Regions from separate parts of the Homo sapiens genome. Here regions 1, 3, 4, 5, 6 and 7 are each linked to region 2. Evidence: fine-mapped expression QTL. A gene starts in region 2. Each other region holds a variant in brackets. All regions are shown on one strand. Distances are between the middles of the regions.

Evidence for each region. PIP is the estimated chance that this variant, and not a neighbour inherited with it, causes the effect.
Region 1: its variant is fine-mapped to the expression of ZNF514 in subcutaneous fat (FUSION, PIP 0.95).
Region 3: its variant is fine-mapped to the expression of ZNF514 in whole blood (INTERVAL, PIP above 0.99).
Region 4: its variant is fine-mapped to the expression of ZNF514 in whole blood (TOPMed, PIP 0.98).
Region 5: its variant is fine-mapped to the expression of ZNF514 in whole blood (TOPMed, PIP 0.97).
Region 6: its variant is fine-mapped to the expression of ZNF514 in whole blood (INTERVAL, PIP 0.98).
Region 7: its variant is fine-mapped to the expression of ZNF514 in thyroid (GTEx, PIP 0.97).

The regions. Positions count from the first base shown.
Region 1 is chr2:96,061,723-96,065,789 of GRCh38, forward strand. No RefSeq gene overlaps it. Among named protein-coding and RNA genes, the nearest start is that of GPAT2, 29 kb to the left of the region's middle. The variant A/AAGGAGAGCAGG (reference allele first, on the strand shown) is at 2,523.
Region 2 is chr2:95,157,392-95,161,458 of GRCh38, forward strand. It overlaps ZNF514 (zinc finger protein 514), which reads right to left and starts at 2,457. Exons shown (of 5, transcript NM_032788.3): 1 at 1,849-2,457; 2 at 1-48. RefSeq lists a silencer at 2,284-2,533.
Region 3 is chr2:95,679,840-95,683,906 of GRCh38, forward strand. No RefSeq gene overlaps it. Among named protein-coding and RNA genes, the nearest start is that of TRIM43, 90 kb to the left of the region's middle. RefSeq lists an enhancer at 3,430-3,930. The variant TCACACACACACA/T (reference allele first, on the strand shown) is at 2,306.
Region 4 is chr2:95,016,712-95,020,778 of GRCh38, forward strand. It overlaps MAL-AS1 (MAL antisense RNA 1), which reads right to left. Exons shown (of 8, transcript XR_007087136.1): 5 at 367-472. Among named protein-coding and RNA genes, the nearest start is that of MAL, 7.0 kb to the right of the region's middle. The variant A/T (reference allele first, on the strand shown) is at 2,288.
Region 5 is chr2:95,372,085-95,376,151 of GRCh38, forward strand. It overlaps KCNIP3 (potassium voltage-gated channel interacting protein 3), which reads left to right. Exons shown (of 9, transcript NM_013434.5): 3 at 2,212-2,336; 4 at 2,764-2,833; 5 at 3,054-3,124. Among named protein-coding and RNA genes, the nearest start is that of FAHD2A, 29 kb to the right of the region's middle. RefSeq lists enhancers at 2,312-2,891, 3,473-4,051. The variant C/G (reference allele first, on the strand shown) is at 2,346.
Region 6 is chr2:94,695,435-94,699,501 of GRCh38, forward strand. No RefSeq gene overlaps it. Among named protein-coding and RNA genes, the nearest start is that of FAM95A, 64 kb to the right of the region's middle. The variant T/C (reference allele first, on the strand shown) is at 1,909.
Region 7 is chr2:95,070,373-95,074,439 of GRCh38, forward strand. All of the region lies in intron 1 of LOC124907857 (a long non-coding RNA gene), which reads right to left. Among named protein-coding and RNA genes, the nearest start is that of MAL-AS1, 45 kb to the left of the region's middle. The variant T/C (reference allele first, on the strand shown) is at 1,561.

The DNA of each region.
Region 1 (4,067 bases), 900 kb after region 2:
CCCCATCCTGCCGGCTCCCTGTGGTCCAGAGAGTTGGAGAAAGCCCCTTGGACCAGAGCCTTCCCACACTTGGTCCTGTGTCGGGTAGGAGATTTGCAGGAGGCCATTTCTGCTGTTCCAGAGCCCAGATGTACTTCCCTGGGGTGCTGGGAGCCAAGGCATGGAACTGCAGTCGCCTCCCAAGTTCAGGGCCCTGGGTGGAGCTGCTGGCTGCAGCCAGGGCCAGGGAGCAGAGATGCCCCTCTGCCACCCTGCCCCACCCCAGGCAATGAAGAAACTCCAAGCTCTGGGTCCGTGGGAGGCACCAGGCAAACAGAGGAGTCAGCAAGCTAAACATGCTATTAGCAGCGATGGAGAAGTGATGATTCTCTGCACAGCTGTCAGAAGCAGCTCCCCGCCGCCTGGCACCAGCACCTGGGGAGGGGCCTCCGCTCATCGGCCTTCACAGAGATGCCCCAGGCTGGGAAAGAAAGACCAGCAGGCCGGACATTCTGTGCCACCACTCCCTCGTCCTTAGCTGCAGGGATCTTGCCCTTCATCCAGAGACTGAGACCTGGAAGCGAGGCCCACCTCTGCACCTGCCCCCATAGCTGGGCCTTCGTTCCTCAAACTGTAAGCTGGGCATGAAAGTAATACCACCTTTTGTGGCAGAATTGTTGGGAGGGACCAGTGAGATATTTTGTCTGAAGCACCTTGCAAATGGTAAAGGGCTATGGGGTCACTGCTGTTACAATTCTTCTATCAAAAATCTAATCTTCAGGGCTTTCACTGTTTCATTCACACAGAATGAAATTGAGGCTCAAGAGGTTACACGATTTGACCAAGTCACACAACTGCAAACAAGTAGGTGTCAGTTTCCAGGATCGAAGCCAGGAGGAAGCTCAAAGAGCATCCAGCCCCCATGCTGTAAAAGGGATTCAAGGCCCAGAACCAGAAGGTGATTAGCCTTGCAGCAGGACAGAGGGCAGACAGCACCGAAGCCCAGCTCTGCTCACTCTGCTGGGAGCACTTCCCAGGCCACTGTGGATCTGGGCCTTGTCCTCAGCTTGGGGTGGCTGCAGGAGCATCCTGAGGAATGAACCCATGCCAGAGCACTGAAGATGCCCCCACCGCCCCCGCTGCAGACTCCTCACCCAGGTCTCTTCATCTCAAAGGGGCTGTCATAGAGGCCCAGGGCTGTGACCTGGAGGAACACACTCCACCTTCCTGACATCCAGCCCGTCTATCATTCTAATAGTGGAAAGGTGGGTTCCAGAGCCTGCTCAAGACACAGTGTGCAGAGCAGGGAAGGAGCCTGCCCAGGCACAAGGCAGGGGCCCCTCTCAAAGCCTCATGCGCTGCCTGGGGCCCTTGACAACCTGAGGCCTTCCAGGATGCTTTGAATTCAGTCTTCTTGGCCCTGCTGCTGCCCCACTTGACAGAAGAGAGATGGATGGGGAGGTGAGAGGCACTGCCCGCCTAACCACCCACCACCTGTCACTTCTGCCTTTTGAAATCACTTTCGTGGGCAGAGGCAGGGATGCTGATCACACCATGTGGGAGGGACTTGGAGGGTGGGGCGGTGACTCACAGGACAGTGGGGGATAGGAAGCAGCTCCAGAGCCTCCCTGGTAGTGAAAGGGAAGGGCGCTAGTGACTCAGGGACAGCTGGGGAGGGGTGCATGGGGAGGGAGCTCATTCCCCCCAGCTCTGTGCCCTGCATGCCTGGGGGGTGACCTCCTGTGGTGGGCCCCGATCTTGCCCCTGTGGGGCAGTCTTTGCCCTCAGCTTGCTTCCCAGCAGTAGCCAGGCACCCAGTAGCTGCATGGTGAGTGAATTCCAATCTTGCCCGCTGCCGGCCAGCTGTGCAGACCTTCGGCAGGCTGAGTGCTCCTCTGCCCTCACATCTAGGCCTGTAGATGGAAGCAGAGCCCGACTCATAGAGCCAATTGCCCATCCTGCAGCTGTGAATGTTGCAGCTTCCAGCAGGTTCTTGCTGCAGACTTACTGAGAGGACTGAGGGCTGTGGCAGGCCACCCCAGCCTGCTGGGCACCCCCTTCAGGATGGCCCCAACAAATAGTAAATAAATGCCCCACTCCCAGGCCTGCTTGCTTCCGGTGCTCCTTTCACCCCTGCCCTGCACTGAGCCCCCTGACTATGGCTCCCTGATTCGTTCTCAGCAACACCCGGTGTCCCCAGAACGCTACACACTGGGCCCTGGTGGGGCACAAGGGAAACAGCACATCTCAGACTGGGGTTTTCAAACCCAAAGAGAGTCTCCCACCTAGACAGAGGCAGAAGAGAGGCAGGCTCACGTGGTTGAACTGTGTCCCCTGTGCCCATAACACTCAGCCCATCCCCTACCACCTCCTCCCCGGCCACCTTCCCTGACATCGAGCCCATCCATCACCAAAGTCTCCCCAGAGCCCAACTACTGTCATCCCAAGCCCTGCCTCAGTCAGGCCACTGCCCCCTTCACTTTCTATCCAGGAGACCCAGCCAGCCAGTGAGCTCTGTCCTGAGATGGAAATGCGGCCACAGG[A/AAGGAGAGCAGG]AGGAGAGCAGGAGGAGAGCAGGAGGAGAGCAGGGGCCCAGGCTTCTTCCCTTCCTCATTACCTGTCCATCCATTGGTTCATCTGTCTGTCCATCTATCCACCTATCTACCCATCCATTCATCCATCCATTCATCTGTCCATCCATCTATCCATCTACCATCCATCCATTCATCCATTCACTCACCTGTCTGTCCATCTATCCATCCATCCATCTACCCACCAATCCATCCATTCTTCTGTCTATCCATCCATGCATCTATCCACCCATTTACTCATTCCTCCATCCATTCATTCATCTGTCCATCCACCTATCTATCCATCCATCCAATGATCCATTCATTCACTCATCTGCCTGTCCATTTGTCTATCCATTCATCCATCTTTCCATCTACCATCCATCCATTCATCCATCCATGTATTTATATGTCTATCCATCTATGCATCCACCCACCTATCTATCCATTCCTCCATCCATTCATTCATCTGTCCATCCATCTATCCATCTACCATCCATTCATTCATCCATCCATCCATTCATCTGTCTACCCATCTATGCATCCACCCACCTATCTGTCCATTCCTCCATCCATTCATTCATCTATCCATCTATCTATCCATCTACCATCCATCCATCCATCTACCATCCATCCATCCATTCATTCATCTGTCTGTCCATCTATCCATCCATCCAAACATCTATCCATCCATCCATCCACCCATCTATCCATCCATCCATCCACCCATCTATCCATCCATTCATCCATCCATCCATCCATCCATCCATCCATCTATCCATTCATCTGTTCAACCATCCACACATCCATCCATCCATCTATTCATTCATCTCTTCATCCATCCACACATCCATCCATCTAATCTCAGAATGCTTAGTGATGTCACCCTGTGCACATGGGTCTCCTGGAACATCAGCTTTAAAGGGGGAAGGATTACTGCTAGGTTTGTTCCCTGTGGTATCCTAGTGCCTAAAAGCTGGCACAAAGTCAGTGTTGAATACATATTTGTTGAATGTCAAATGACTGAATGAATGAATAGATTCTTCACCTGGAGAAGGGAAGTAGAGCCCACCAGCCATCATCTTCAAGTCTGGATGACCCAGGCCGAATCCCAGGCCATCCAGAGGTTAGGCCTCAGGTCCAGGGAATGGCATGACTTGCCCAAGGCCACCTGGCAGGGTAAGAGCAGGGCCAGGTGTCCGGCCTGGGTATTCTTCGCCCAGATTAGTGTTTTCTGCACTAACTACTAAGAGCTTTCTGTGCTGGCAGTCCCTGGGAGCAGCAGCAGAAGCCTAGAGCCCAGGGGTGGATCCAGTGGCCAGAGTCAGGAGCTGAGACTGGGAGCCTCTGAGGAGCAAGAACCTGCCTGAGTGGGGTCTGGATATTCCCAGCAGGAGGAAGAGTGTGTGCTGTGTGGCAAAGCTGTCCCAGCTGCCCAGAGGAGCAGCAAGTGCTCTGCTGGCCTTGCAATCCCTGCCCCAGGGTGGGATGAGCAGGCTCTGGCCTGGAACACAGCAACCTGGCAGCCCT
Region 2 (4,067 bases):
CTCCTGGGAATCTCTCTGGAGGAAGAGCAGGATTCTGAGAAGGGGAAGCTGGGAAGGTAGAAGGAGACATAAGGGAAGCTGACCCAGCCAGCACACACAGCTCTCAGACTTCCCAAGCCTGAGACCCAGAACAGCTCTGAATGTCACCTCCGTTGTTCTGAGGACACCAGTGGATCAAAAGGATCTGAGAGGCAGCTTCTAGCCTTCAAACATTGAGAGAAGTGCCCCTGTACACAGCTGCATGAGGCTCCCACCTGTCCACAGCCCACATCAGTCTACAAGTGAGTGAAGTGTGACCAGTCTGGCCATACCACTGAAGTTATTTACTGGGCATACTGTATGCAGGTCATCTCCTAGGACTTTTGGAAATATAAATATGGAAAAGAACTTCAAGGAACTTTAAATCTAGCCTACAGGTTAACAATTACACAAGACCCAAGGCAAGGCCATGCAGGATTATGAGGCTTTAAGGGGAGGAAGTTACACCTCTCCCCTCATCCTTGGGAACCCAGCTCAGAGGCCACCTCTTTCTGAGAAGCTGCCCCTGGTGTTCCCAAGCTCTGTTAGGTCTCTGCAACACACTTGAGAGCTCCTTCATTATAAAGCTTTGCATCATACTGTTCATAAAAGCCTTAAAACAAACAAAAAAACTAACCCAAACCATGCCAGAGAAGTAGTTAAGGCTAACAACATGGGTGTAAGCATAGCACAGTTAGGCATTCCTCAAGCTTCATGTGTGTGTGGATCCCTGAGGATCTTGTTAAACTCTGGCTCAAGACTTGCTAAGACACTGTTTGAGGATGTGTGGGGCCCCAGAGTCTGCAATTCTAGAGAACTTCTGGGCAATGCCTCTGCTGTTCCCAGAGCCACACTGATTAACAAGGGTATAAAGGAAAAAAGAGGGGGTGGGAAGCCCACGGACTGGGCCCAGTTCTTCCACTGGCCAGTTATGTGTCCTTGAGCATGTGCACTGAAGGATGAACAGTCGGATTAAAATGCCCACCTGGTTAGAGATAGGACGTTCTAAACTTAGGACTGGCTTAAAACCTCCTGGGTCACCTGGATTGCCCTGCCCCCAACGCTATTGGGGGAAGGGGCTCAGAGGAGATACCCACCATGTACACTGCTGACCTTATACACCGCTGAGCTAGAACGACTGGAAGAACCTTATTAGTGAGGTGATTAAGGAGGTGGATGACAAGGCTCCAAATGGCCCTATCGTCCTCTGATCCCTGGCCAAGGGCCACTCCCTCTTGGGTTTGCTTGCCCTCTCCCTGCCGCAGCAGGAAGAGATCAGATCCTCTTCTGCTCTCCTCTGGCCATTGGGACAATTTTCCATGGCCATCCCCTCCACCTCCGCCACGGTCATCTAGAGACCCCTGCCAGACCCAGGAGACTGCGGCTTCAGCCTTCTGGGTCTGGAAGGTTAGATGTCGCCACACGGAAGGCAGATGAAGTACAGCCTCACCCTTCAGTGGGATTCCCCGGCCTCTTCCTGGGGTCCTCCTGATATCGGGCTCGGTACTAGCTCCCCAAGAGGGCTCCTGGCCCTCTGCACGCTCCAGAGCCAAACCTGATGCTGTGGAGTCCATAGCTGGGGCTAAGGAGCGGCGTCCTTTCACTAGGTCCAAATCTCTGTCTTTCGGCCACAGCCCTGTGGTCCTCCCGAGGGTTCAGGGAGCGGGACGCAGGCTGGGGCTGCCTGGGGGACACGGGGCATCCCCACTAGGCGCGGCGGGGCCAGCGGACCTGCAGGGCCCAGAGCAGGGCCGGCAAACCCCGGTGCGCCCAGCGCGGCGCACTGCTGCCCGGGGTCGTGCTCTTCCCTCGCCAAGTCCGGCCTCCTACCCCCGGCTCGGCTCCTCCTCAGGACCAGGCTCTGGAACCCAGCTCCCACGTGGATCCACACGCACAGTGGGCTCAGACTACCAGGAGACACGGCCACAGCCACGCCCGCGACGCGAGGGCCCAGCGCTCTTCAGCTGCCCGGAAACAGCAGGGATTCGGTGAGAGCCTCACAGGAGCAGGGACCGACTCTATCAGCCCGGTTCGCCCCGCTGTCCCTGCCTAGCTCCGGCCTGCACAGTCCCTAGCGGGGGGCACTCGGAGGGACACACCCAGCTCTGTAAGGGGCCGGGGCGCGGGCCCAGTACAGGTCTGCGCGCCCGCAGTCTCCGAACGCTCACAGGACCAGGCCCCGCCCGCCACCCCGCGCCAGCCCCCGCCCGCCACCCCGCGCCAGCCCCCGCCCGCCACCCCGCGCCAGCCCCCGCCCGCCACCCCGCGCCAGCCCCCGCGTCCGCCCCGCGCCAGCCCCCGCGTCCGCCCCGCGCCAGCCCCCGCGTCCGCCCCGCGCCAGCCCCGCCTCCCGAGGCCGTCCCGAGCTTGCGCAGACGCGGCCGCCGCCGGGGCCCTTCAGAGCCAGCGCCGGTGGCGGGGTGCTGGCGCGGCGAAGCTGGAGAGGCGGGGCTCGCGGGCGCCTGTAGGACCTCCGCTGGGAGGGGCCGTGCTCGCCGGCCACGCGCCGGTTTTCACTCCGCTCTCCCCCAAGGGCAGGGACCTACAAGCATTTCCCTTCTCGCGCGTGACTTTGGTAGCTGAGCCTCATATCTCTCTCGTTTTTTGGGGGGAGGGGGGAGACAGCCTCACTCTGTCGCCCAGGTGGGAGTGCAGGGGCGCGCTCTCGGCTCACCGCAACCTGTCTTCTGGGTACAAGTAATTCTCGTGTCTCAGCCTCCGTAGGAGCTGGGATTACAGGTTCCCGCCACCACGCCCAGCTAATTTGTTGTATTTTTAGTGGAGACGGGGTTTCACTATGTTAGCCACGCTGGTCTCGAATTCTGACCTCAGATGATCCTCCCGCCTCAGCCTCCCAAAGTGCTGTGATTACAGGTGTGAGCCACCGCCCCCAACCTGCATATCTCGATGTAAGGCTATTCAACAGAAGCCGCGTTCCTACCCTGGATCTGCTGAGTGAGGATTTCCAGGAGGCTCTCCTGGCGTGCCTAGGGGATACTGGGGACTCAGTGCTAGATACTGCTTCTACAGGCTGCCCCGTGCCTCTTGCCTTTCTCCATCTGCCCCTGAATTCAGCGAAGGGTGCTGAAGAACAAAAGAGGACTTTGAACGCCCTCCTACTCCAGAAACAAATATCATTTAGGACCCAAAAGAAATGGAAAAACGGCCTGCTATGGTCTGAATGTATGTGTCCCCCTCAAATTCATATGTTGAAACCTAACTCCCAAGGTGATAGTATTAAGAAGTGGAGCCTTTGGAAGACTCTGCCCTCATGAATGAGATTAGTGCCCTTTAAAAACAGCCCTTAGACCGGTCGTGGTGGCTCACATCTGTAATCCCAGCACTTTGGGAGGCCAAGGCGGGCGGATCACTTGAGGTCAGAAGTTTGAGACCAGCCTGGCCAACATGGTGAAACCCTGTCTCTACCAAAAATATATTTAAAAATTAGCTGGGCGTGGTGGTGCACGCCTGTAATCCTAGCTACTCAGGAGGCTGAGACAGGAGAATTGCTTGAACCCGGGAGGCAGAGGTTGTGAGCCAAGATCGTGCCACTGCACTCCAGCCTGGGCGACAGAGCAAGACTCCGTCTCAAAAAATAAATTAAATAAATAAATAAAAATAAAAACGGGCCTTAAGCCCCCTTTGCTCCTCCTGCCATGTGAGGACACAGAAGGTGCCATCTATGAGAAACGTACCCTCACCAGCCCCTGAACTGGCTGGCACGTTGATATTGCATTTCCCAGCATCCAGAACTGTGAACAACAAATTTGTGTTGTTTACAAATTCCCCAGTTTAAGACACTCTGTTATAGCAGCGCCAATGCCTAAGACACAGTCTGAGTATTAAAACGGTGGTTTTCTGGAGGCAGTCCTCAGCCAGAGAAGGGCCACTTGTGAGGACAGAGAGATTGGTTTATCAACCCTATTTAGGAGTTCAGGACAAAATAACTTACAAAATCAAGGCAAAGACAAAATAACACGAAATCAAGGCAAAGAGACCATTCTCCTTTCCTGCTTTTGCAGTCTCTGTTTCACTTTTCTGCCAGCACT
Region 3 (4,067 bases), 520 kb after region 2:
CCCTGTGACTTTGGGCAGGTCCCCTCCCCTCATCTGCATTCCCTCCTCCTCATGTGGTCTGGCTCCCTGGGAACCCATGGTGGTGATAAGGTCAGAACACAGTGCGGTGGGTGACTTGGGGGCCAGAAAAGGAGGCTGTGGTCATCACTGAAGGAGGACAAAACAAGGACATGCACCAAGGAACTGACACTGGGGCCATCGAGAGAGAGGTGACAAGCTATGAAGTCTGACAACTGATTCATTTTTCAAGAGTCGAGACTAAAATAAGAGGAGATAACAATAGAAGCCATTTATTGAGTATTTAATATGTCCCTAGTGCTACATATACATTATCTACTTGATAAGACAGGAATGCTACATATACATTATCTACCTGATAAGACAGGTATTATTATTATCCCACTTTATAGATGGGGAAACTGAGGCTTAGAGAGGTAAAATGATTGTTCAAAGTTAACACTGTTAGTAAGTGGAAGAGCTAAAAATTGGAGACTTGATTTTTTACTCTTGCTAGAGCTCTTAGTCATTGCTTTATTCTGTCTCCTGTAAGTAGATTCACTCGTGAGGCTTTATTTGGATTTTATATGGTGACATATCATGGTTCTTCATGAAGCGAAGGTGGACAGGCACCTGCAGTGCTCAGGGTACATTGTGCGGGGAGAGCAAGAACCTTGGGAAGGAGACCTGGGGATCTGCCATCAGAAGAAAGTGAAAAATAGGAGGCTTTCTCATTTGTAAAGCACTTTCACAGCTTTTGCCTTAATCCATTCTCATGACAGCCTTGGGAGTTAGGCATGGATTTTTTTAAAAATCCCCATTTTCCAGTTGAGAAACTGAGTCCTGGAGAGGTGAAAGAATTGCCCAGAGTCATCTAACTGGTACATGGCAGGAGAGCAGAACCTGATTCTCTTTTCCCTGGGCTCTGCTGCTTGTCAGGGTTGGACATGAGGTCCCCAGAGGAAGCCCACGTTGCTGGGGGGTTAGACGGGAGGGGGACAGAGCAGGTATGGCTGGGGTCCTAAGAGCTGAGGTGAGAGAAGTTCTGAGGCACGTGTCCTCATCTTCAAAGTTCCAAGTAGGGAAGGGGGCCAGGGCTGAGGGTCTGAGAGTGGCATAGCCTGAAGTCCAGAGCTAGAGGACAATGCCAATGGCAAGAGCCCAGAAATGAAGGGACCACCTCAAATGGAGTGCTCTATGGGGTGCCCTCTCCAGAATCTAAGGGGAAGGAGAAGGTCCAGCAGGAATCACGGGTTTGGGTCTCTGCCATTCCTAACTCCCTGGTGCCTCAGGCATCGACGGGCAGGATGCTTGGAGGCCATGGGCTGCAGCGGAAGGAACACATGCTTTGGAGACAGATTGCTCTGGATTCAACCCCTGGTTTGATCACTTCCTTCCTGTGATTTTGTGTCTCAGTTGCCCTTTCCATAAAATGGAATAACAGCTTTTTTTTTAGTCATAAGGTGTGAATAAGTGAATGCATATTCACAATATCAAATGACTCATTCATTTCATGAACCAACATGTGCCAGCACTGTGCTAGGATAGTTCTGTGGGCCATGCAGACAAGGTCCCTGTCCTCATGCAGTTTACTTTGGTGCCCAGCACAACATAGGCCCCTACAAGCACCACTTCATTCCTCCCATCTGTAAAGTTACCTGATTTCTGTCCTGCAGTGCCTGGCTCCATGCCAGTAATCAGGAAGGAGAAAGGGGTGAATCAGAGAAGCAGAACCTCAAACTTTGTTCTGAGCCCACAGTTCCTGAGCTAAGCAGGAGCCAGAGGTCAGCAGGGTGAGGCTGGGGGCTGGGGACCAAAGAGGAGGGTTGGCACGTCATATTCCTCCTTATCTGACTGCCCTTGCACCAGAGCCCAGAGAGTTTGACAATGATGATCTCACTAGTGTTCAAAGCTTCCCGAGGGAGGCCAACAGCAAAGCAGAAAGCACTGGAGTGTGCTTGTGTTGACAGCTGCCGGATCAGAGGGCCTGGCTTGGGATCACAGGCTGCGGGGGTGGTGAAGCAGTGTGCAGATTCTGAAGCCTGGCACTCCCACGTGGGGCCCCAGGAGCCAGGTTCACCCACACAGAAACTCAAGGGAGGCTGCGTTTCCTAACCAACAGCCTTCACCTTGTGGTAGATTCTTTTCCTGTGGGTCATCTCTTTCAATTCTCCCAAGACTGCAAAGAGAGATTATTGTTCCCATTTTCTAGATCAGAAAACTGAGGCTCAGAAGAGTGAAGTAGCCTGCTTAAGGACGCATGTCTTCATCATAATAGTTGGTATGCAGGTTCCCCTCCCTGTCTCCA[TCACACACACACA/T]CACACACACACACACACACACACACACACACACACACACACACACACTGCAATGACTGTCTCCTAGGCTGGCTAACAGTGGACCAAGATGAGCCCATCCTTATCTGCATCCTGCATCAGTCCACGGAGAGCAGGCAGCAGGGATAAGGATGGGGAAGACAGGGTCAAGGAGTCAGACTACAGGCACCCCTGTGGCTCAGGGCATAGAGGGGGCTCAGGACACATGGAGCACCCCCTTGCCCACGTTCCTTTTCCGGGTCTGCCTCTCTACCAGACCTCTCTCCTTCCTCCTTTTTCGCATCCTCTTTGGATTCATTTTCTCCTCTCATTTCCCCTTCTCTGCTTCCTGATTCACCCTTTGCTATCTTTTCCAGTCTTTTCCGTTCCTCTCTTCAGTCTCTCCCTCTCCCTTTGCTTCCTTTCCCTGGACTCCCCTGGCTCCTTCTCCCTTTCTCATCCTCCCTCGTGTTTTCCTGTTTGTCTCTTCGATCTCCTTCCCTCCTTTTCCGTTTGTCTCTCCCCGGCCTGCGCCCCTCCCCGCCGCTCGCACCCTCCCTCGCGCTACTCCCTCTGCGCAGCCAACCCTCCCTCCGCCCCCTCGGGCCCGCCCTCCCCTCGCCAGTCTTCCCCGTTCTCTCTCCGCTCTCGCTCTCCGTGGTTTAGTGCTTGCCCTCCTGCTTCTGACAAACTATTTGTAGGAAAATGAGATTTGGTCCGCGCTGGACGGCTCCTCTGGGAAGCAGGCGTGGGGGTCGGGTGTCGGAGGCCCCGTGCGTCCCCCCACCCCGTACCAGAGCCCACGGCGCTTACGGAGCTCTTTAAGATAAATGAGTAAAATTAAGAGACTCGCCGGGGGAAGAAAACACTGGAAGGGAGCGAGCGAGAGCGGATGGTACTTGGTTTCCTCCCAGAAATGCATCCACGTGCGCCCCACTGGGGCCTCCCCCATCTGCTGCAGACTCCAGGGAACTTCCTCCCCTCAAAGACAAACTTCCAGCCCTGGAGCATGTTTCTTCCTTCCCTGGGATGTGGCGCTGAAAAGGGTAGAAACCTCTAGTAAGGCACAAGCAACAGATTGGGGGTGGAGCAGCAGGTCTCTTTGGAGGTGGCCTGGAAGAAACCTGACAGAGAGGATGGGAAGGGGAGAAACAGAAGAGTGTGACGAGGTGGGTGTCCAAGGGCAGTGGGACAGGCTGTCCGGGTGGGAGAGTGGACTTGAGGAAGTAGCTGCAGGCCCAGACTACTTCAGCCACACCCTGATCCCCTGGGACCCTCAGGGCACAGAAGGCAGTGCTGGCTCCAACCTCAGTCCAAGGAGCTGTGGAAGCCTCAGAGGCCCTTGGCAGAGGTGAGCCCTCATTTCTCACCTCAAAGGCAGGGATTGAATCCTTGTCACCCAGACAAGGATTTTCTCTTGTCTGGGTGGCAGAACTATAAGTTGTCAGAGGGCAAGTAGTGGGTCTTTGGTTTTTCTGCAGTACCACAGGGCTAGCTTACCTTAGGCCATAAGTATTATTTGTTGAGATGCGTGAATACAAGAATGTCTTAAAAGCTCTAGGCTCAATTTTCAACTCCCACAGATGTGCAATGAAAACAATTTTCCAGACTACTTTTTTTCCCTCTTATTTTGAAAGCAATACACTTATTTTTTCCAACAAACATTGAGACAACAGAGATAAGCAACATAGAAGAAAATAATAATCACCTGTTATTCTACTATAAACAATTTGGAATTTATCCTAAATCTCAA
Region 4 (4,067 bases), 140 kb before region 2:
ACCCCTGAACCAGGCCTGACCCCAAGCAGAACGTGCCAGTGGTGAGCCTGCCCTGTCATACTTCTGAGCTGGGCGGGCTCCAGCCCTCCCTCACAGGCCCGAGAGGCCACCGGAGGTGAAACCTTTAGAGCCACCTCAGCAGGTGACTAAGGGCTAATGAGACCCCGTCAGTGCACCAGGCAGTCTGGTGAGCCGTAGAGAGAGTGAGCCCATGAGAGCTGGGTTCCCATGAAGGCTGGGCTTCCACTGGGGCTGAGAGACTTTATTTGCTGATGACAACCCTGGAAGCTTTTTGAATTTGCTTTCCTTCCCTAGCATCGCAAGGCCACAGTGACCCCTTGTAAGAGCTCACAGTGAGGCACTCACGTTGTGTCAGCCTTGGGTTTCGCTGGAGGCTCAGCTGTCAGCTGTGGGGTTGGCTCAGGTGGCCGTCCCATCTTCTGCTGTATAGGAATTCACGGTGCGGTGCCTCCTGCAATGAGCAGAACAAGAACTACCACTTGCTAGGAGGGTAGGTACAGAAATAGCCTTAGGCCTGGGAGGTGACAGCCTGGAGACGAGGTAGGGATCTGGGTGTGTGTGTGACAGCCAGAATGTTCCCTAACAGAAGCTGCATTCAAACAGGGGAGAAAACTTTTCTCCTGAGAGTGAAGCTGTGAGACAGGGCATGGCACGTGTGGGACAGCAAAGAATCCTGGGGGAGCCCAGGGGGCCTCTATTTATGTCAACACCAGCTGTCATGTCCCGGGCGCTGCCTCATGCCAGACACTGCCAAGGGCACTCACACACATTATCTCGTTTAATCCACAGACAGCCCTGGGAGAGAGATTAGCATCACTATTGTGTAGACAAGGAAACCCAGGCACCGAGAAGTCAAGTAATTTGTCTAAAGTTGCACAGCAAGGAAATAGCAGAAGGGAGAGTTCGTTTGTTTGTTTGTTTGTTTTGAGACAGAGTCTCACTCTACAGCCCAGGCTGGAGTTCAGTGGCATGATCTCGGCTCACTACAGCCTCCACCAACCGGGCTCAAGCCGTCCTAGAAGGGAGATTTTTAATCCAGGCCCCGAGGTCACTCTAATCTGAGTGCTCTCTGAGGTCTGGCAGAAGGGAGGAATTCTGTGGCACATTCATGATGTGATCAGAGGGAGGATGGTGCCTGTGAAGAAGACAGAGGTGCCGCGCTGACCCTGTGTGCAGCCAACTCTGGGGAAGGCAGTAGGCAGAAGAGAAAGCCAGGGGCCCCAGGTCAGAGGTGTCAGGCACCGAAACAGGCAACCCCTTCTTGGGAAGGAAGGCTAAGGCACAGGGCAGCGAGGCCAGCACGGAGGGGCCGCTCAGCAGCCCCGGGCCGCCCCGGGACAGCAAACATGCAGCCCTTTCTGCCTAGCCCTGCCTCTAGCCCTGCCTCGCAGAGGATGGGACCATGTGAGGGTAGGGAAAAGAAAGAGGATGTCCCCAGAAATGTGGCATCCGAGGTCTCCTGCCCAGCTCTGCAACACACAGGAGTTCCCGGCCAGGCAGAAGGAGGCGACCTCCACAGATCAGCAGGCTGGAGCCAAGGTGTGCGTTCCTTTAGTGGGTTTTCAGTTGCAAATTCTACATCCTTTGTCCACTGTTTAACGAAAAAATGACGTTTCCTGCCCTCAGCCCAGTGCTTTCTCACCCCCCAATACCATCCTACCATCCTCAAAGGGAGCCGTTGTGAGGAGCGCAGTTTCTGTCCGTCCAGGTGTGCATTTACCTCTGTATCTGCAGACACATTTTATTAGAAGCAAAAAATGGATTATGCTTTAAGCACGGATCTGCCACTTCCTCTTTTACCTTGAAAGGACGCTGTCCCGGCATCCTCCGGTGTCAGCACATGGACATCCACTGTCCCTTTTCCACCCACGGCAGGGTGTCATCCCACAGCCTGGACACAGGCCTCCTATGCCAAGTGGATTAAACACTTCATGAGAAGAGACTGTCCTTTCCCACATAAAGAGCAAGTGATCGGGCCTGGAGCTGGTGGGGAGAGACTGTCATGTCTCGGAGGACCGGGTAGCGCCAAGATTCTGACCTCTCTGATTTTTTAAGGGGTTTGGGGAAGGTGATGGATCGAGAGGTGACGGGTTCTGGCAAGTGAGAGTTTGGAAAGATGGTGGGGTCTGGAAAGAGATGGGCCTGGGGGGTTTGGGGTCTGGGAGGTGATGCAGAGGGGATGGGTCTGAATCCTCCTCACGATGCAATGCCTAGTCCTGCACGGTCAGGGTCACTCCCAAACAAACCGGGCTGGTCGGATGCAGGC[A/T]GCCCTCCCCTCCACAGCTGTGGCTGCCCTCTGCCCACCAGCCTCTGGTTTCCTACATGCCTCTGAGGTGCACCTCTCTGGGCGCCTCCTCATCTGTCATCCAGGTGGGGCAGTGGCGAGTCCCCTCCCTTCCTTCTAAGGCTTAGCAGTTCTGAATCATAGACCAAGACCCGGGGCAGCCAAGAGCTTTTCCTTCCTTTTCCTTTAGGCCCTACTGCTTCAAAAACAGGTCTGTTGCCACAACAGGAACCAATGCACCCAAAGGACACAGTTTGTGTCATGGGCAGCAAGTTTAGGAAACCAACAGGACAGGCCCTGTGGGGTCTGAGGGTTCCTCAGCTTTCCAGACGCCTGCCTGTGAGCTCATTTTCCCCGCCCTTTCTCCCTGTCCTTCAAGAAGCACTCATGGCCCTGCCCATGGGCCAGGTGCTGCGCTAAGCACTACGCACTGAGACGTGAAGTAGCAATTTCCTACTACCCTCCATGCAAACATTCCATTCTTCTTTTGCAGCAAGTTTTTGCATTCTGCTTTGTTGAGTTTTATGGTTTTGATGTGTTTCTTGATCTCATGCTGTTCCTGATCTCCAAGTCCCCTGTGCCAACTCAGAGACATCTGGGCTGGTCCCTGTGCCCTGTTTCTTCTGGCTGTGCTCCAAGTGCTTGGCCCTGGCCAATCATTCCAGTGACAGAAGAAACAGTAACCCTCACTGGACCCTGCTTTCTTCCCCCAGAGGAGAACCCACATTGGCCTTGTCGAAGGTCTCGATGGCCCCACCCTGGAGTGCCTACACCTGCACCTCTCAGGCTCCCACATGTGCCTCCCTGTCCAGCCTGGCTCCCTGTGCTCGCAGAGCCTGTGTGTGACACTAGGGGAGTGTGTTTGAGGCTGAATGAGTGGCCAAGTCACCAGCTGGAAAGAGAAGCTCAGAGAAGGAACGAATTCACCTCTCTATGAGTTCTAAAAGATCATGTGCAGAAATGAAAATAGTTGCCTTGATTTGGAAGAATCGGGGGCATTAGGACAATGCCGTTTTTGTCTGTTTTCTAAGTAAGGGTGCATTTTTTTCCAACAGAAAATAGGAATGCTAAGAAGAAGGGTATCTATCAGGAGAGCCTCCACTGCCACAGTCTCTCTCCTTGACTATAGGGCCAGGCGGCTTCTCTAGAAGGTGGATTCCTGGTCGTCCACGAGGGAGTGACCTCACTCTAAGGGGCGGGGGGGGGGGCGCCTTTGGAGGAAGCCCCAGGTGGAAGTATAAGTTTGAGCAGGAAAGGCCTGGGGCCAAGGTCATTGCAGGATGCATCTGCGAAATTCTGTTATTTACTTAACAACCACTCCAGAGTCTAAGAAGGCAGGCAGCGGCCATCTGAGGGGTGCTGTAAGTGAAACCTGAAGGGAGATGCTTTGCACTGGAGCAAACCAGCCTAGCCCCAAACATGCTGAGACTACATTCCAAAGATCCACTGGCCCAGCCCTGCAGGTCTGATGTTTCGGGCAACGTGGGCCAAATTCCTGGTGCAACTTGCTGGGCAGGTTGTGAGCTCTCCTGTGGAGGCGCAGGGTCCAGTCCCTCTCTGGGGCAGAGAAGGTGGGCTCCAAACAGGGAAGAAGAGGGGTCTTACTCTTGGGGTTCAACAGAGGGAATGGACTAAGTTCAAGGTATGCGGCATACCCTTTGCATTTTGCCTGAGCCCAGCCTGTCCCTGGCCTTTCTGGGTCTGCCCAGGAGCCACCTTCTCACACAGGTCACAGGCCTCCCTGGCCCCAGGACTCACCTGC
Region 5 (4,067 bases), 210 kb after region 2:
GTGAGCCACAGCACCCAGCCTTAATATATCTTTGTATTAGGAGTATCCCTCTTGTAAACAGGATATAATTGGATCTTGCTTTTCCAGTCTGAAAAGTCTGCCTCTTAATCAAAGGATTCTTACCATCCATCCATCCATCCATCCATCCACGCTGCTGTGTGTACATCTGCTCCACGGCACAGTTCTCCCCAGTGTGCAGCCTCCATATTTTGCCTACCCATCCTGCCTGCCATAAACCCCTGAGTTGCCTCCAACTCTCCTGCCAAAAATGCTGTTGCTGTGAGCATCCTTGTGCAGGCCCCTGGGCAGGGGAAGAGTCTATGTGGGATGCTTGCCTGGCGTGGGATGCTGGTTTACAGGGTTTGCCTATACTTAATATGACTAAGGATTCGAGATACTACAGTATGTCTATATGGTGATGGGAATGATCCAGAAGAGGGGAAAAGGTGATGAGGAAAGAGTGGGAGACTTGGCTGGCACCGCTTGCCTGAGTAGGTGAGAGGGATCGGGACCCACTGCACAAGTGGCAGGTTTGCCTTTGCTGGGAGCAGGCACAGTTCAGCCATGGAGCAGGCAGGCGTGCAGACGTCTGGGCCAGGTGCAGGCAGGTGGGTAGGTGTGGGGTGAGGGCTTGGGGAAGTTTTCCTCCATGGCTTGTGTCTTCTCAGTGAAGTGGGAAGCAACCTGAGGGTAAGGATGGGAGAGGAGATACTGGAAACTTAAGGGGAAGGATGGTATGAAATAGTTATCTTGGAGATGGGGAGCATGTGTGGACCAAAGAAACAGCCCAATTGCTGAGCAGCTTTCAGGGTGCTCTTGTGGTTAGTGTGAGTGGGCAGTGCAGGCTGTCTTTCCCACCACGCTCTCGGGAGAGGCCTGGGTATGGAGCAAGCTCAGCACAGGACCAGTGCCCAGCACCATGCCAGGCACCACGGGCACAGGATGAGCTGTGCAGGACAGCTGCCCCTGAAGAGCTCACTGTGCAGTGGGAGAGGCAGCAGCCAGCACCAGAGTACCAGCCATGAGGGTGATTATGGATCACCACCATTCTGTGTGGCCCAGGGGAGACAGGGCGACGGTGCAGCGGGGCCCATGAGTCCTGGGTCTGTGGGAAGGTGGCGCTCTGTAATTATGCGAGGATGCTGCTCAGCAAGGTGTGGGCACTCAGTGCTGTTTCAGCCCTAGCTTTATTTTGCATTGTAAAAGTGATGCATGTCACACCAAAAGAAATTAGGAAAATGTTTTTTAAAATCATAAATAAAAAAGTAAAAATCACCTGAAATTGCACCTCCCCCTCAAATGTAGCCATGGTTAGTTAACAAGTTTGTGGTTTTTTTTTTTTTTTTTTTTTTTTTTGAGATGCAGTCTTGCTCTGTCACCCAGGCTGGAGTTCAGTGGCGCGATCGCGGCTCACTGCAAGCTCCGCCTCCCCGGTTCACACCATTCTCCTGCCTCAGCCTCCCGAGTAGCTGGGACTACAGGCGCCCGCCACCATGCCTGGCTAATTTTTTGTATTTTTATTAGAGACGGGGTTTCACCGTGTTAGCCAGGATGGTCTCGATCTCCTGACCTCGTGATCTGCCTCAGCCTCCCAAAGTGCTGGGATTACAGGTGTGAGTCACCGCACCCTGCCAAGTTTGTGTATTGTTTTTAAAGGACAGGTCTGATCCCTGCCCCCACAGCCCTGGAGGTTTAGCCTCCTAACCAGATGTGAATAACACCCCTCTGCCAACTGTAGCTGAACAGCATCGCCTTAGGCCTTGAGGGCCAAGGGAGGCACCCTCTCCATTCCTGGGGAAAGTCAGGGAGGGCCACATGGAGGAAGTGGTCTAGGAATTGGATACTGAAGTTCAAGTGTCCCTCATGCCTGTCTTGCTGTCTTTCCCCCTCCTATATCCCCTTGTTCAGTGCCTCTTTAGGACAAGAGCAGCTCCCACCTTGTCCCACTGTGCGGCTGACAGGGGGGCACACTGCAGGGGCTGCGATGGGGAGGCCCGCCCTGTGGGGGGCAGGAAAGCAGAGGCACAGCTCTTGTGTGGGCCACTCAGTCACACCCCCTCTGTGCAGTGCACAGCCTGTGTGGCTGTCCATGGTAGTCATGCAAAGAGAGTTCCTCCACCTGCTATTTTGGCCCATGCCCTGGCCACACTGGAGCAAGATGGAGGAGCAGGGCTACAGGCCTTACACTCTCTGGTCTGTGTCCCACTCCAGATAGCAGCGACAGTGAGCTGGAGCTGTCCACGGTGCGCCACCAGCCAGAGGGGCTGGACCAGCTGCAGGCCCAGACCAAGTTCACCAAGAAGGAGCTGCAGTCTCTCTACAGGGGCTTTAAGAATGTGAGTGTT[C/G]CCCATTCCCCCGGGAGAGGCCTTGGAGACCCTGGCTCAGGGAGACCTGGAAACTTCTCCATGCCACAGTAAATATCCCAGGGGCCTTTAAGGGGCTTATGTGTTGTGGGAAAGCTGTGTGGCGGGGGCAGGCTCCGGAATGGGCATCGCTGAGGCCGCCATGCTCCTCCCTCCGTGTCTTTGCTGCTGGTACAGAGGAGGAGGGTATGGGGGAGCAGTCACCCCCTTCCTATTCACCCCTCCTCCCTCTCACCCCACCTCTACCCAGGCTTTCCACAACCCAGGCCAGGGGGCCCCAGCAGTGCCACAGGCAGCAGGCAGCCCCCAAGGGGGTGGAGAGAGGCCAGCCAGGCACCATGCAGAGTCGGGCTTGGAGCTGGGGGTGGCCGAGGGCTGAGGGGGTGCCTTCCTGCTGCAGGAGTGTCCCACGGGCCTGGTGGACGAAGACACCTTCAAACTCATTTACGCGCAGTTCTTCCCTCAGGGAGGTGAGTCTGAGGCAGGGCAGCCCTGCTGTGTCCCAGTGTGGAGGGAGGGGACCCTCCTGCTGCCCCTTGCATCCTGGAGGCTTGGTGCTGCCCCTGTCCCGTGGGAAACAGGGACTCCAAGCCAGGACGCAGTTAGCACCCTCAGCTGGGGTTGCCTGGGGTGGGAGATGAGCCGCCAGGCAGCCCCGACACACCCCAGCCTCTTCCTTGCCCTCCCCAGATGCCACCACCTATGCACACTTCCTCTTCAACGCCTTTGATGCGGACGGGAACGGGGCCATCCACTTTGAGGTAGGTCCTCGCGGATTCCTCCCACGTGTCCTGCCCCTGTGGTTGCAGGAGTGAATCCTTACCCTGGCGTCACTGTCAGGGCTGTCGAGAGAGCCATGGTCCTGGGTGGGAAGGATCTTGTGAGTCACCCTGGGAATGAGTGGATGTGGCTGGCCCTGGGCCAGTGAGCTCTGGGGTGTTTGACTTTGCTGGGCCGGCACCACGTTCTCAGCCTTTTCTTCCATTTGAGAGTTTGCATCCAGCTCTGCCTGGTCAAGGGAGCCCCCGAGACACACACGGGTGGTAGTGACCCAGCGGGAATTTGCATTTTCAAAGGGATCAGGGCTTAACTCAGAGGCCTGGTTTGCTGACGGTGGGATGTGAGACCTCCATTTTCAGAATTTACTCCTTGTTACCCAGAAAATAGGCCAAAAATATCTAGAAAACATCCCAGCCGGAGCAGCCTCCAGGGCTCATCCCAGCTGGGCACTGAGAGCAAAGCCTGGTGTTACCCACTGGCGGAAGGAGAAGCCTGTCCCCCACCCAGACAGCTTCCCTGTGGGGTCCTGGCCTGGGCTCCTCCCCAGCCCCGCCACACAGGATCATTGGAGAGAGGCCCCATCTGCGGAGCCCAAGCCTCTAAAAATAGCTGCAGGCGAAAAGCTGAAACCGCTTTGGGGAGGAAAACCTTTCTGAGAGCCGGCTTGATCGATACCCCGACAGCTTGGCTTCCACTGGGCTAAGGGCAGCTAACAGGAAAGCACAGAGAAGCACATGGGGCCAGAAGGCCCCGGCCACACGGGGTAATAATAACTTGTCGATAAGCTGCGCGGGTTATTTTTATGCCGCAAGCCCGCCAGGCACACTGACGCTCCCCGCCTGCCCTGTGACCACAGGACCCCTCGACTCTGAGCCACACTCTGAGGGCTCTGCACATAGAAGCAGACCGTGTTTTCAAATCTTG
Region 6 (4,067 bases), 460 kb before region 2:
GCGTGAACCCAGCGGGGCGGAGCTTGCAGTGAGCCGAGATCGCGCCACTGCACTCCAGCCTGGGGGACAGAGCGAGACTCCGTCTCAAAAAAAAAAAAAAAAAAAAAAGAAAAGAAAAGGAGAATAAATGTATGAGATATTGAAACTCAAGAAAATGGATATCCTTGGTTATGCAAAGTCATACAGATTGGTAAAATGGTCATTGGAGACTCAGAGCGGGGAGGGTGACAGGGGAGTGAGGGATGGAAACTTGCCTAGTGGGTACAGGGTACACTATTCAGGTGATGACTATATTAAAAGCCCAGACTTCACCACAATACAATACAACCATGTAACCAAAAACCCTTTATCCCTAAAGCTATTGATTTTTTTTAAAAAATTATAGCCTTAATGGTGATATTGCAAAGAATAAAAGATTAAATGCCAGTAGTCCAAATACCCACAGGTTGAAAACAGAACATGCTTAAAAATGGTACATTTAAAGAAGCTGAAAACCAAACAGTAAACCAAATCCAATGAAAATAGAAGTCATACAAGAGATATTAATGGAAAATAATACATTCAAAAAGAATCACATAATCAAGGGGATCAAAAAAAGCCAAAAGTTTTTCCTTGTAATAATGTTAAAATAACCTTTTACAAAATTCAGAGACCAAAAAAAAGTGTGTGAGAGGGAGAGAGGGAGGGAGGGAGCACAGTAATATAAAAAGAAAAGGTATTACTACTGATCCTATAGAAGAAAGAAATTCAAAGTTATGAGCTACATTATTGCAGTACATATTTGACAGTTTAAATAAAATTTGTAAAAAACTTGAAAAATGTCACTTACCAAAACTGACATGAGAAGACATAAAAATCGGAATATTCCTGTAACTATTTTTAAAATCCATAATAACTTTTTCTCATATATGTACAAAAGTTCTAGGTCCAGATGTTTCACTAGAGAATTCTTCAAAACATATTAACAGGAAAGAAAACTAACATTATTTACATATTTCCCCTACTGAAAAATTTCTCAGCTTGTTTTATAAGGTTACCGATAATTTTAACATAGAAATGTGACAAGGACATTAGAAGAAAAGACAGTAACAGGCCAGTCTCTCTTACAACCTAGCTAAAAATAATTTAAATTAAATATTATACATAAAACTCAGCAATATATAAACCACAAACAGGCTGGGCTTGTTACAGGGATGAACATGTTTTCATATTCAAAATTTTAAAACTGCAGTGTGTTTTCTTAACAGAATAAAAGCCAAAAATTATATGACATTCTCTATAACTAAAAAAAAAAAAATTCCAAAGTCTATGAGTGACAAAACCTATTACCTAAGTTGCAATGATGAAAAAATATTTAAATTATTAAAGGCTACTTCCAAAATGACTGTGATGAACACCTCTGTAATGGCGAAGTGTTGAACATTTTCCTACTGACATTGGGAATGAGAAAATGATACTATGATCAACTTTGCTCAACCTTACACCTGACAAAATTGCTAGTGAGAAAGTAAAGAAGAAATAAAAAAGATATAAGAACTTGAGGAGAAGCAATTAAGCTAATTTTTCACCAAAAAAATGAACAATTTACAGATAAACTATTATATGAATACATTTACAAGGTATGTGACTATAAGATAATATTTGAAATCCATTGCATTTCTTTTTTAAGGAAAGAAGAACTTCTAAAATTGAAATTTGAAAAAAAGATACCTCTAACAATAACATCAGAAATATCAATTATACAGGAATTAATTTACTAACTACAATACAAAATCTGAAAATGAAAACCCAGAAAGCATTATGAGAAAATTGTTGAAAGTCAGGACATTAGTTACCCGGAAAAGGTAGGCAAATATTATCCTAGGAATGAGTTTAGGAGAATTCTGGGTTGTCAGTAATAGCTAGTTC[T/C]CTAACTTGCATGGTTATTTATGTTTATTGCAAAATAGTAGCTTACTTTTTAAATTTTATAATATCCATTGAATGTTTATTATGATATACCCATTGAGATCTATGTTTATGATTTGTATATTTTTTAGGGGTGTGAAACAACAATAAAACATTTATTAAAAAGAAAATTAATGAATAACAGTAAATTTTTTATGACATCAGATGATTTGTACATCTGATAGTTCTTGACATACCATCTATATTTGACTTTCTTGTTTGAATAGTTTCTCTAAAAATGTTTTTAGTACCCTGCTTTGGGTAGCAAACCACTTGAGGGAGGATGAGTCTGGGAATATTTTTTAAAATGCTCTCAATGTTCAATAGCATTTTATTTGCATATAAAATTCTACATTATAGCTGTTTTCCTTCTATAATTTTTTTATAAAATATATTTCCATAGGTTATTGGGGAACAGGTGGTGTTTGGTTACATGAGTAAGTTCTTTAGTGGCCATTTGTGAGATTTTGGTGCACCCATCACCCTAGCAGTATACACTGCACCCTATTTGTAGTCTTTTATCCCTCACCCCCTTCCCACCTTTTCCCCTTGAGTCCCTAAAGTCCATTGTATAATTCTTATGCATTTTCATCCTCATAGCTTAGCTCCCATTTATGAGTGAAAACATACAATGTTTGATTTTCCATTCCTGAGTTACTTCACTTAGAATAATAGTCTCCAGTCTCATTCAGGTTGCTGCAAATGCCATGAATTCATTTCTTTTTATGGCTGAGTAATATTCTATTGTGTGTGTATACACACACACACACACACACACACACACACACACACCACAGTGTCTTTATCCACTTGTTGTTTTATGGTAATTTGGGTAGGTCCCAGGTTTTTGTAATTGCGAATTGTTCTGCTATAAACACGCATGTGCAAGTATCTTTCGTGTAATGACTTATTTTCCTCTGGGTAGATATCCAGGAGTAGGATTTCCGGATCAAATGGTAGTTCTACTTTTAGTTCTTTAAGGAATTTCCGCACTGTTTTCCACAGTGGCTGTACTAGTTTACATTCTCACCAGCAGTGTAGAAGTGTTCCTTGATCACCGCATCCATGTCAACATCTGCTGTTTTTTGATTTTTTGCTTAGGGCTATTTTTGCAGGAGTAAGGTGGTATTGCATTGTGGTTTTGATTTGCATTTCCCTGATCATTAGTGATGTTGAGCATTTTTTCATATGTTTATTGGCCATTATGTATATCTTCTTTGGAGAATTATCTATTCATGTCCTTAGCTCACTTTTGATGAGGTTTTTTTTTTTTCTTACTGATTTCTTTGAGTTCCTTGTAGGTTTTGGATATTAGTCTTTTGTCAGATGTATAGATTGTGAAGATTTTCTCTCACTCTGTGGGTTGCCTGTTTACACAGCTGATCATTCCTTCGGCCTTGCAAAGGCTTTTTAGTTTAATCATTTCCAACCTATTTATCTTTGTTTTTATTGCATTTGCTTTTGGGTTCTTGTCATGAAATCCTTGCCTAAGCCAATGTCTAGAAGTGTGTTTCCAATGTTATCTTCTACAATTTTTACAGTTTCAGGTCTTAGATTTATTTATTTATTTATTTATTTATTTATTTATTTTTGAGATAGAGTCTTGCTGTAGCCCCAGGCTGGAGTGCAGTGGTGCAATCTCAGCTCACTGTAACCTCTGCCTCCTGGGTTCAAGCGAGTCTCCTGCCTCAGCCTCCCAAGCTAGGATTACAGGCACATGCCACCACGCCTGGTTTACTTCTGTATTTTTTTAGTAGAGATGGGGTTTTGCCATGTTGGCCAGGCAGGTCTTGAACTCTTGACCTTAGGTGATCCGCATGTCCCAGCCTCCCAAAGTGCTGAGATTACAGACATGAGCCACAGCGCCCAGCCAGATTTAAGTTCTTAATCCATTTTGAGTTGATTTTTGTAGAAGGTGAGAGACGAGGATCCAGTTTCACTTCCTACGTGTAGCTAGCCAATTATTCCAGCACAATTTGTTGAATAGGGTGTCTTTTCCCCAGTTTGTGTTTTTGTTTGCTTAGGCAAAGATCAGTTGGCTCTTAGGTATTTGGGTTTATTTCTGGGTTCTTTTTTAATATGCCATTACCTTCTTGAAATCCAGTTGCAGTAAAAGTTTGATA
Region 7 (4,067 bases), 87 kb before region 2:
ACAGGAGATCCGCCCACCTCGGCCTCCCAAAGTGCTGGGATTACAGGCATGAGCCACTGCGCCTGGCCTGTTCCATTAATTTCTTTGCCTATTCTGGAAATGATGCCAACTTCTTAAAGGTGTTGCAAGAACAGAATAGTCAACACACTGAAAAGAATGTCTGGCATTGAGTACTATATATATATTATATATATATATATATAAAATGTGACCCCAAAATGTATGAGTCTATTTCGTTCTATCCTCTCACCAACATATAATATATATAATATATATACATATTATATATTATATATAATATGTATATATATTATATTATATATTATATTACATATTATATATTATATTACATATTATATATTTATATATTACATATTATATATTATATTTTATATTATATATTATATCATATATATGTTATGCATTATATAATACATAATATATTATATATGATATAATATATATTATATATTATTATATATAATATAATTAATATATTATGTATTATATAATATATATTATGTTATAATATATAATATATATTATATAATTATATAATATATTATGTATTATATAATATATATTATGTTATAATATATTATATTATATATATTATATATATATTATATATATAATGTATATTATATATAATACATAATATATTATATATTATATATTATTTTATATAATATATTATATAATGTGATATATTATATAATATATTATATAACATAGTATATTATATAATATATTATATAATGTAATATATTATATATTATATAATATATTGTATGTAATATAATATATAATATATATTATATATATATTTAAATATAAGAATACTTAACCCATCCTGGCTAACATGGTGAAACCCCATCTCTACTAAAAATACAAAAAATTAGCCGGGCGTGGTGGCGGGTACCTGTAGTCCCAGCTACTTGGGAGGCTGAGGCAGGAGAATGGCATGAACCCGGGAGGCGGAGCTTGCAGTGAGCCGACATTGTGCCACTGCACTCCAGCCTGGGCGACAGAGCAAGACTCCATCTCAAAAAAAAAAAGAATACTTAACCAACAAAAATTGTATATATTTATGGTGTACAACACGATGTTTTGATATATGTGTACATTGTGGAATGGCTAAATCAAGCTAATTAATATATGCATTACCTCACATATTTTTCTGCAGTGAGAACATTTGAAATCTACTCTCTTAGCAATTTTAAAGAATGCAATACACTATTATAGCTATTGTCACCATGTTGTGCAACAGATCACTCCTGAATTTATTCTTCCCCACTGAAATTGCGTATACTTTGACTACTATCTCCTCAAAGTAACCACCATTCTACTTTCTGCTTCTATGAGTTCAACTTTCTCGGCTTGCACATGTGAGATCATACGGTATTTGTCGGTCTGTGTCCAGCTTATTTCACTTAGCATGAAGTCCTCCCGCTTCCTGTGGTCTCTGTAACTTGTGCTCCATGCCTGGGATCTCTTTTACGTTACTTTTTCTAACTGGCCATTGCTGGGGCATTGGCCACCTTATGATTTTTTATGGGG[T/C]AACCTGTATCGGGCCACCTTGAGCCTTACTTGCATTTGCTCTAAGAGTCTGCCATTGATCCTCTTGGATTATCTGTGTGGACAATCATGTCCCCTGGAATGAAGACTGCTTTGTTCCTTTCTGTCCCTCCTCTTGGCTTGCTGTGCTGGGTCAGCTCCCAAGACAGAATTGAGTGGTTAACGAGCAGGCATGCATGCCCTGTTCCCTACAGCAAAAGAAGAAATGCTTCTAAGGTTTTACCATTCAGTCCCAGGCTTACTCTAGTAAGCACATTTATCTCAACGAGGTTCCCTTCTACTCCTAGTTTGCCAAGAGACTTATCAAGAATGGGTGTGACTTATCAGTTTTTAGGGTCTCTCTTGGAGCAGATCGATCACAAGCCTTTCTTCTTTTAAACTGATGCCCTAGAAAATTACAGTCATAGACTATTGTTCAACCAGTCCTGGGGCCATTGTTCTGGCAGCCCTAGGGACACCCCAACCCCATCATATGAGGATATTTCCTTCTCAGGGAGAAAGGCTGAGAGATCAAATCAGGACCCATGAACTCAGGCAAGTTCCACCACGATCTGTGATCCCCTTCCTAGGAAGGTCAGCTCCCATAGCCTGGGAAGGCTATGGCCCAGACCTGTGCTTTCTGCTTTAAAGGCTATAACCAAGAGCCAGAACACCCCGTGCCCACCGAGTCCCAGTCTCAGAGCCTGCCTGTGGATTGCAGCCAAACCCATCTGTGTCCACCTGTGGGGCCACATGAGCCGCCAGTTCTGGAGTCCAGGACATTCAGGCTCAGGAGAAATTGCACCTTGAAAGAGAGATGACCAGAGATGAGCAGCCTTTTAACTGGCCTCCATCTGTTGGTGTCTCAAAACTTCATCTGTCAGATACCAAAGGAATCTAAGAAAAGCTTCACCTAGAAAAGGGAATAATTCTTATTTCAGAAGTTTCCACCACAGGACTACTGTAATGTTCTATAGAAGTGCCATAATTTTTTTGGGATTTTCACCTTTGGAGGCATCCATGGAATTGACATGCCATTTTCTTTGTGTGTTGCCTGGACTTGAGAGCTTTAAAAAATACAGCCCAGGACCCAAGCCTTGGAAATTCTGATCCAGTTGCCAGGTGATGGATATTGAAATCTGCATTTTTTTTTTTGAGACAGCATCTCTCTCTCTCTCTCTGTTGCTGAGGCTGGAGTGCAGTGGTGCAATCACAGATCACTGCAGCCTTGAACTCTTGGGCTCAAGCATCCTCCTGCCTCAGCCTCCTAAGTATCTGGGACTACAGGTGCATGCCACCATGCCCAGCTAATTTTAATTTTTTGTAGAGACACGGTCTCCCTATGTTGCCCAGGCTGGTCACAAACTCCTGGCTTTAAGCAGTCTCCCTGCCTCAGCCTCTGAAAACGCTGGGATTCCAGGGGTAAGCCACTGCATCTGGCGAGAAATCTGCATTTTTAAAGAGCTTTTTCAGAAGGTTCATTTATGGTCAGCCAGGTTTGAAAACCACTGACTGAGAAGGTACTGGAAGGTTCTGGCCTCAGCCTCATCATCATTGAGATCAAAGGGTTCCTGGAAGGTCTCAGAGATGGCATGGTCACCATGCTAATTCTAGCCCAAGTGGAGCAGGAATGTGTGTGTCTGGGTGCACACTGCTGAGTCCAGCTCTCACTGGGAACTCAAGGGGACCCTAAACCTGTGGCTTCCATCCTGAGGGCTCTGGGAACTAGCTTTGTGCATTCATAAGCAGTCCAAGCCCCTTATACCCTCCAGTGTTGTTTTCCAAAATGTATACCTGTGCTCATGGTGCCTACGTTAAAAACACCGCTAACCTCAGAGCAGCTTTTTACAAACTTATATCTCCATCGACAGTTACTAGAAGTGTACCTACTATTAACATGCGTATTGGGTAGAGGACCAATGTGCAAATTTAAAATATATGTATATTAAACAGAGCTCTTCAAGCATGGACAGGCTGGGAAGTCCTGGGGAGAGGGCCTCCCTGAAGCCAGTGGCTGCCTCTGAGTTAATGAGCAGCTGGGTGGCTGCTGCCCTGACCGCTGGGCAGGCAGTCACCCCACTCCCACCCCACTCGGGTGACAGCTGGCCCGGGGGCAGTCCAGGACTTGAGTCATCCCAGTCTGTGACAGGGAGGGCAACGTTAGAGAGGAGGGCCTGGGACAGAGTGAGCCTTTTGACCATGGAACTGCCTGGGGTGAGGGTGAGGGCACCGTGGCTGCCATCCTAGTGAAGCCCCACCCCACCCGATACTTCAGGCTGACTCTTAGATTCTTAGAAGAGTTCTCAGCCTGCCCAACATTGAGTGGAAGGGTTTGGGTGTTAATGGCCTCAAAGGCTTCTGTCAGGCCCACAAAGACACCATGAACAAGCCCTCAATACCTGGCCAACCGCATGGCTGACCCCATTGTCCTTCCCTAGGCGTGGGCAGGGGCTATGGAGGGTGATCTGGCCAGCGTCTGATTCATAGGCGCAAATCAAAACGGCCACTGA